2 separate regions of the Homo sapiens genome follow, and region 1 is linked to region 2. The links come from fine-mapping of genetic effects on gene expression. A gene starts in region 2. The other region holds a variant in brackets. All regions are shown on one strand. Distances are from middle to middle. Region 1 has its middle 180 kb from the start of LRRN1. Region 2 holds the start of LRRN1 (leucine rich repeat neuronal 1).

Region 1 (4,390 bases), 180 kb before region 2:
ACTGCACCCATGGCTTTGCATAAGTTCTCAACCCTTCAGAGGAATGAAGGAAGCTGCAATTGCCCCCAATTCATAAGCCAAGGGTCTAGGCACTGCCTTCTTGTTGAATGCTGACCAACATTCAAATTTAAGTATTCTTGCCTATCTGATAAGCAAAAATGTTCCTGATGTTTTAACTTGGAAGAAATTATTTCAATATCATGATTTCCATAATTTCTATCATTTGGTGTTCTTATAAAAGCTATCTCTCATCTTATTCTGGAGATCTTTCCTTCACATAGGAACCTCTACATGACACAGAAAAGAAAAGATAGATGGGCGGCGAGAGTCTAGATTTATATTCTAGCTGTTATGCATGGTGAGGCCAGCTTAAGAAACACGTGGCTTTTGAAAGACTTTCCATTGTATAAGGAGCAGACCAGACTTTTAACCACAATCCAGAGACTTTTAACTTCACAAAGATATGGCATTTTATTTTAATAAAGCTATCGAGAGAGCTCCCTTTTCGAGTGACTTTTCAAACGCATCTTTTGTCAGCAGAGGGCTTTTATTAGCTAATGTAACCTTTCTGTACTCCATGTTAGCAGAGAGAGAAAGGAAATGTCCTTGGGTTCCAAATGTGGAAAGTTGTGCAGAGACTCTCAAGGAGAAAGAAGTTTTCCGCTTTCCAAAGCTGCATTTGTCACTCGCTGTTGTATCGTAACTGAAAGTAATGAACTTTCCGATGCTACTGTCCAGAAGGTAAAGGTTTACAAGATTATGCCTCTAAACTGGCAATTGCATAAAAAGAGATCACCAAGGATTAAAATGTAGAGACCAAGTAAAAGTGTGAATTTAGCTGTGAGTGATAACTTGTAGAGACTCAGCTATAAAATACCTGAAATGGGGGGAGTTAGGCAAGACCTAGGAGTGAGGAGTGAGAGTAACAGTCTTGGCTGTGGAACAGGGTAGCTAGATGTTTAGGGCTTAATCCGAGCCACTACTGATAATTAAACAGCATCGATAAACTGAAGGAGCATGGGGAAGGAGTATGGATTGTGGGCTCCGGGTGCAATTCATGTGGGGTGTCGGTGTTGTGGTTCCATTAATCAGTCGTTTGATGGAAGAGCTCAGTCAGTAGTGGAAGAGGCTGGTGGCAGGGGCTTTGACAGGTCTTAGGACACTGGGAAAATAGATTGAGATTCTAGAGCAGGGCTAGTGCAGTGTGGGATCTGAACGTGTTGTCAGGACTGAGCCCAGCCCTTTGATTACAGTCAACATAGTAGGAATGGAGAAAGTCACACCTAAATGGGAACCTGAACCAGGGCTTCATTTCAAAGCCCATGGAACAGATAGGGAAGGGTGACTAATGACTTTTCTACTGTTGCAGACTGGCTTACAAACTGAGTAAGGCACAAAAGGAAGAACTGGTGTTGATAGCAAAGTGTCATCAGAGAAGGCAGGAAGGACACCCTGTCATACTGCCCGTTGGCTCCCCAGATATCACTATTTTTTTTTCCTCATCCTTGTTAGGAACTGGCAGGTAGTTGTGCTTGATGTCTATTAGACTTCATTTCAATTTTGAGGTCCATAATTCAATGGGGATAGATATAAAAAGGCTTCCTTTTTCATTAAAAGGGTAATTACCTCGTTATCAGAGTGCTGGAAAGATGAGAGCTCATGGATTTTTCATAAAATTATAAGTTTATAAGGAGTCGGGTGAAGTCATCTTATTCTGTCCTCAAGCCAGGGACAAATCTAATTCACCCTTGATGGATGGGACATTGTTTAACAAGGATCTCTAGAGAATAAGCGTTGATAACTTTCAGTATTTTGCAACCTTCAGTTGTGTTATTTCTTCTATCCTGTTGAATATATTGACACAGAATGGAAGTCCATAATTTTTTTGTTCTCTTTGGGTAGAAAGAATAGTGTTATAAATGTACTTCATTTTCATTATGTTAAAGAATACTTATCAAATGCCTTGTATGTGCTTGGTGCCAGATACAGCTGTGACACAGGGAAGAAGACAGACTTGATCCCTGCTGTCATTTAGCTGTGAGACTCATGAGGGATAATAACCAATAATCACATCAGTAAATGACTACAAATTGTAATAAGTGCTGTGAAGGAAACACTAAGGCATTGCTACAGAGGATAACAGGAGGAAGCTAAGACCTCACTGAGCCTGTGGCTCCGGCCGCTGAGTGATGGTCCCTTCTGTCTGCCAGGGTGGGATCGGGCACTCATCCAGTTGCAGGTGCGAGCACTATTGAGTAGCACAGGGTCTCAAGCTGTGGCCATGGACTTGGGCAACAGGAAATTAGAAATATCCTCTGGAAAGCTGGCCAGATTTGCAAATGGCTCTGCTGTAATACAGTCAGGTGACACTGCGGTAATGGC[C/G]ACAGCCGTCAGTAAAACAAAACCTTCCCCTTCCCAGTTTATGCCTTTGGTGGTTGACTACGGACAAAAGGCTGCTGCAGTAGGTAGAATTCCCACAAACCCTCTGAGAAGAGAGATTAGTACTTCTGATAAAGAAATTCTTACACGTTGAATAGTAGATTGTTCAGTTAGACCTATCTTTCCAGCTGGCTACTTCTGTGATATACAGGTTCTGTGTAATCTGTTAGCAGTAGATGGTATTAATGAACTTGATGTCCTAGCAATTAATGGCAACCTCTGTAGCCCTCTCATTATCAGATATTCTTTGGAATGGACCTGTTGGGACAGTATGAATAGGAATGACTGATGGAGAATGTGTTGTTAACCCAACAAGAAAAGAAATGTCTTCTAGTACTTTAAATGTAGTGGTTGCTGGAGCACCTAAAAGTCAGACTGTCATGTTGGAAGCCTCTGCAGAGAACATTTTACAGCAGGACTTTTGCCACGCTATCAAAGTGGGAGTGAAATATACCCAGCAAATAATTCAGGGCATCCAGCAGCTGGTAAAAGAAATTGGTGTTACCAAGAGGACACCTCAGAAGTTATTTACCCCTTCACAAGAGATTGTGAAACATGCTCATAAACTCACTATGGAGAGACTCTATGCAGTTTTTACAGATTATGAACATGATAAAATTTCCAGAGATGAAGCTGTTAACAAAATAAGATTAGATACAGAGGAACAACTAAAAGAAATATTTCCAGAGGTCGATCTATATGAGATAATAGAATCCTTCAATACTGTTGCAAAGAAAGTTTTTAGAAGTATTATTTTGAATGAATACAAAAGATGCGATGGTCGGGATTTGACTTTACTTCGGAATATAAGTTGTGAGGTAGATATGTTTAAAACCCTTCATGGATCAGAATTATTTCAAAGAGGACAAACACAGCTGCTTTGTGCTGTTACATTTGATTCATTAGAATCCAGTATTAAGTTGGATCGAGTTATAACAACTATAAATGGGATAAAAGATAAAAATTTCATGCTGCACTATGAGTTTCCTCCTTATGCAACTAATGAAATTGTCAAAGTCACCGGTATAAATAGAAGAGAACTTGGGCCTGATGCTCTTGCTGAGAAAGCTTTGTATCCTGTTATTCCCAAAGATTTTCCTTTTGCCATAAGAGTTACATCTGAAGTCCTAGAGTCAAATGGGTCATCTTCTATGGCATCTGCATGTGGTGGAAGTTTAGCATTAATGGATTCAGGGCTTCCAATTTAATCTGCTGTCACAGGTGTAGCAATGGGATTGGCCACCAAAACCGATCTTGAGAAGGGTGAAATAGAAGATTATCATTTGCTAACAGATATTCTGGGAATTGAAGCTTACAATGGTGACATGGACTTCAAAATAGCTGGCACTAATAAAGGAATAACTGCATTACAGGCAGATATTAAATTACCTGGAATAACAATGAAAATTGTAATGGAGGCTATTCAACAAGCTTCAGTGGCAAAAAGGAGATTTTACAGATCATGAACAAAGCTATTTCAAAACCTCAAGCATCTAGAAAAGAAAATGGACCTGTTGTAGAAACTGTTCAGGTTCCATTATCAAAATGAGAAAAATTTGTTGGACCAGGTGGATATAACTTAAAAAACTTCAGGCTGAAACAGTTGTAACTATTAGTCAGGTGGATGAAGAAACGTTTTCTATATTTGCACCAACACCCGGTGCTATGCATGAGGCAAGAGACTTCATTGCTGAAATCCGCAAGGATGATCAGGAGCAGCAATTAGAATTTGGAGCAGTGTGTACTGCCACAATAACTGAAAGCAGAGATACTGGTGTAATGGTAAAATTATATCCAAATATGATTTTGGTACTGCTTTATAACACACAACTTGATCAATGAAATATTAAACATCCTACTGCCCTAGGATTAGAAGTTGGCCAAGAAATTCAGGTGAAATACTTTGGATGTGACCCAGCTGATGGAAGAATGAGGCTTTCTCATAAAGTGC
Region 2 (4,390 bases):
TTAAAGAATTTGGCTCCTGAATAAAGGTGTCAGCAAACCATGGAATTCCCAAACAGAAAAACTCACACTGCGTCTTTATTCTCTTTTCTTAAGGTCTATTGTTAACTGAAGACTCCTTGTCTTTTCAAATTCCTTCATGTGAATGGATGAGGCCAGACATCTGCCAGGATCCGCTCACATTTGCATGCAAATCAGAGACTTCGGGACACATATGGCCCTGGAGCCAATAACACTTTTACTCTAGATTTATACTGATCAAAGTGCCTTCCTGAACTTTCCACTCCTCCAGCCCTAGCTTTTAAAAATGAAATAATGAGCCTATTCCACTAACATGATTTAGATTGTCATGGCAAGACAAAACAAAACATGTTGTCTTTTAGAAAATCCTCCACGCAAAAGCCAGAGTCGGCAGCACCTGTTCCCTCACCCAATTAGAATTCCACTTTTCCTTTACGATTTAGGTTTGGGAATGAAAATACTTACGGCGGGATGGGATTTAGACTCTTAGCCTTTGCCTGTGAGCTTCAAGTGCTTCAGAACCATTTGTACCCCGGCCAGTCGTTCACTCACGGCCAGGCTCTGTTCTTGGCGCTGGGGCCGCGGCGGTGGACACGGCAAGCGAGGTCCCCTTCTCCTGGATCCGGCATCCGGGCCGAAGCGCCTGGTCCGCGTTTCCGCGCGGGCTCCCCTGGAACCGTCCCGGGACACGCGGCCCTCTCGCTGCTGGACTTTTCCCCGAGCCCCAGCTTGCCAGGCAGGGACTCCCTGGGCGGGCGGCGGGGAAGCGCCGAGTCGGCGGCCGCCCACACCCCTCTCCACGCAGCACAAAGGACACTCGCCGGCAAACTTTCCTCGCTTCTGACCCGGGCCGAGCCGGGAACTCAGCGCCAGCTCTGTTCCTGGCGGGGCTGAGGCTTCCCTCACATTCCAGGCCACCTGGCAAACGTCCTGAGGCTGCCACTCCTTCTGGGCTCAAGGCTCACGGGCTGAGGTCTGTCCCCGCGTGGAGCTCAAGGCTCACGGGCTGAGGTCTGTCCCCGCGTGGAGCTCAAGGCTCACGGGCTGAGGTCTGTCCCCGCGTGGAGCTCAAGGCTCACGGGCTGAGGTCTGTCCCCGCGTGGAGCTCAAGGCTCACGGGCTGAGGTCTGTCCCCGCGTGGAGCTCAAGGCTCACGGGCTGAGGTCTGTCCCCGCGTGGACCGCCGAGAGTTCGGTAGATCCTTCCCAAGGCTCTGACTTCAATACTTTCAGTGCCTTGTCAATTATACCCCTTGCCCCTTTCTCTTACCAAGGCCACCGCCAAGACACCCTTTTTCTTTCCTCTCCCCGTCGCCCGCCACCTTCCTTGCCCTCCTCTTGGCCCTCTTTCCAGCTCCCTGGGCCCCCTTTCCGCGCTGCTCTCCAGCCCCAGCTGCCTTCCCCGGTTCACATCCCGGCAGCCCTCCTCCCTCCCCGTCCCCGGGCACCTCCCTCCCCTGGTCGGCCCCTGAAATCCAGCAGGCTCGGCTCCGGTCACTGCCTTTTTTTGCCTGTTTCTATCTGGCCTGCCTTCCCAACTATCGCTCTCCCACACCTTTTTTTTTTTTTTTTTGGCAAGGGGGACGGGGGGAAACGGGGCACTATATTCTCGTTTCCCGACTTCGTCATTTTCCCCAGCTCCGTGAGCCGCGCCCCCTCGTCCCCCTCAGGCCCGCGATCTTACCCTGAGGTTCCCCAGACCCCGTAGGGTCTCCCACGCCACCAAGTTTGCCTCGACTTCCCCTCGCTGCCTCCCACACCTCCTGCCGCGGCGCGGCCGGCCAGGGACTTACCCCGAGGCCCAGCTGGTGGGGGTGTTGGGGTGCGCGCGGACCCGGCACCCACGGCGGCGGCGGCGGCAGCAGCAGCAGGAGGAGGAGAAAGACGAGGAGGAGGAGGAGGACTAGCTGAGCGGCGCCTCCTTCCCAGCCCGCAGCGCGCACTGGCTCCTTGGGGCACCCCCGGGAGAGCACCAAGACCGGAGACTAGGCGGCGACACAGGCAACCGCTGCTGCACGGGGCTGGGCTCAGTCGGCTCTCAGAGGCCAGGGCAGGGGGAGGCAGGACTGGGAAGGAGGGTCGGAGAAGTGGGGTGCAGAGGGCGGGGCAGCGAGCGGCCAGGTCCGGAGGAAGGCGCCCCAGGCGCCTAGGGATGCCGCCGCCCGGGCTGACGCCGTCGGCCCCTCTCCCCGCCAGGCGGGCGCTTGCAGCCGCGGGCGCACGGGCCTCGCCTCGTTCACCGGCTCGTTGCCGGCGCCCGCGGTGCGCCCCGCTTTGTGCTCCCCGCAGCCGGCGTGCACCTGGTGTAAGCAAAGGCGGTCAGCTGATGGGCCGCGCGCGGATTGGCTGCTCCGCCGTCTCCTCCCCTCCCGCCCGACCCTCTTCGCGGCCTCCCGCCCCCGCCCTCGGCGCGGCCCCGTGCTGGGCACCATCTGTGGACCGCCCAACAAAGGCGCAGCGCGGCGGGGCTCGGGTGGCCGGGCCGCGGTCGCCGCTTTTTGTCTAGGGGACGGCAGGCTGCGGCTGGGCAGGGAGGCGAAGCGCACTGCCGGTTTTTAGCAAAAGACAGACCAAAAGAAAATACACGTCCGTGCTAGGAGGCCAGCTAGGCACAATGGGGCCCCATCTCTTTGCGGCGTAGAACTCGGGCTCGGGGGCTGAGAACCAGACACAGTTCGGCCTGGGGCTGTGGGAGCCAAGTTTCGGGGTGAAATCCGACCCTGCGTCTTAAAATACAGGGCGCGTCCTCGGGCTGTGTGTGCGCGCCCGGGGGCGTCCTCCGCAGACCTGGCCCGGGCCGGTGTCCCTGCCGCGGGAAGGAGGATTCGGACGCTTAACTCAGCGGCGAAGTCGCTTCCCATTGGAGGAGGCTTTCCGAAAACGTTTCTGAAACTTTGAAATTACAGCTTTCTGATTTGTGAGGGGTGGAAGTTGTGTTTAAACAGGCGGCGAGGGACTGAGAAGGCAGTGTTAAGTGGAGGTGTCTCCGAGGAAGGGGAGGAGGGTGGGGACGGAATAGGTCTTCGGAAACTGCGCGTGAACCTGCGTCTCAGCTTCAAAGTCGCCAGCCGGAAGCAGGGCTTCAGAAAAGCCTTGGCACCCTTTATTGGGGGAATCGGCTTTAAGCGAAAGCATCATTAGCCCCTCAGTACTGAACAACTTCTGGCAGAGGAACGTGGTGACATTTCATTATGATGTCTAAACTTAGAACTTCTGGAGAATTTGGAAGGATACATTATTCGAGAATCATCCTTTGGATTCTTCAAAGCCACAGGATACATTCAATGTCAGTAACCATATTCTTGATCCCTGTAACATTTATTGGCGTTTCGCTTAGGTCTCTGATAAATGTTTGACGTCTTTGTGTGTCTTCACACTTTGTTATCCTGAAACTGTGTCATGTAGACATAAATGGTCACAGTTTGTCTTAAAAGTCTTTAGGAAAAGGTGATACTAGCACTTGGGCTAGAAGGTCGTGCAGAGCAGAGGAAGAAAAAGGCCCACTGCTGTCTACAAATGAATGGGAAGATTTAAGATCTTTCAAAGCAAGTTGAGTCTAGACCCTTGCCCAAGTTTTGTAACATGATTTTGTCTCTTTCCCCCCTTTTCATGCAGATTATCCATGGAGTTAGCATGCAGATAGCATGGAGTTTGTCTGATAGAAGTTGGGCTCTGGTGGAAGTACGGAAATTGAATGGTCAGGGAAAGATAGAATGCAGGTTTCTTAGGGAGTCTCTATTAGGTTTCCAGCCTGCCTTCCTGGGAGTGGAAGAGAGATGAGGTTGTGCCCTTCAAGGAGGAGCTTTACAGAGGTAGGTCTTGGAGGAGCAGTCGGAGCAATTAATGATGGTGAGAGTTGCTCTTGGGAGGCCAGATCTAGAACAGCCTCCAGGTTTTGGAAGAGACTTCATGAGAATGGTGTGAGTCAGGGACCAAGGTGTGAATTTTGAAACCAGGCCAACACTGCTTAGGTCCCAGCCCTGCAATTTATGAGCTGTGTCCCTAATGGCAAGTCACTTTATCTCTTTAAGGCTTAATTTCCTTGGCTCTAAAGTAGGGTTAATATCAGTACTTATCCCAAAGGATTGTGATGGTTAAGTGGGAGTAAACATGTAAAATGCTTAGGACAGTGCTTAGTATATAGTAAGCATTCAACGACAGATGTAAGCTCTAGGCATTATTAGGCAGGTATTGAAGACTAAAACAAGACATCAATTCAGACAGGTGGGATAATGATTCCGCATGTGACAGAATATCTCAAAGGCACTAGCTGCTCCAGTGGAGGAAATGGACTCTGTCTCTCCACTGTTCGATTCATTTCTTTTCAAATTAGCATATCATTTATTTAAACTAATTTCCCTCTTCCCCAAGGC

Evidence for each region. PIP is the estimated chance that this variant, and not a neighbour inherited with it, causes the effect.
Region 1: its variant is fine-mapped to the expression of LRRN1 in whole blood (INTERVAL, PIP 0.96).

Annotation. Positions count from the first base shown.
Region 1 is chr3:3,982,073-3,986,462 of GRCh38, reverse strand. It overlaps the pseudogene PNPT1P1. Among named protein-coding and RNA genes, the nearest start is that of LRRN1, 180 kb to the right of the region's middle. The variant C/G (reference allele first, on the strand shown) is at 2,383.
Region 2 is chr3:3,797,340-3,801,729 of GRCh38, reverse strand. It overlaps LRRN1 (leucine rich repeat neuronal 1), which reads right to left and starts at 2,299. Exons shown (of 2, transcript NM_020873.7): 1 at 1,811-2,299. LOC100130207 (a long non-coding RNA gene) reads left to right here and starts at 855. Exons shown (of 6, transcript NR_149025.1): 1 at 855-1,029. RefSeq lists silencers at 1,979-2,088, 2,229-2,318, 2,329-2,398.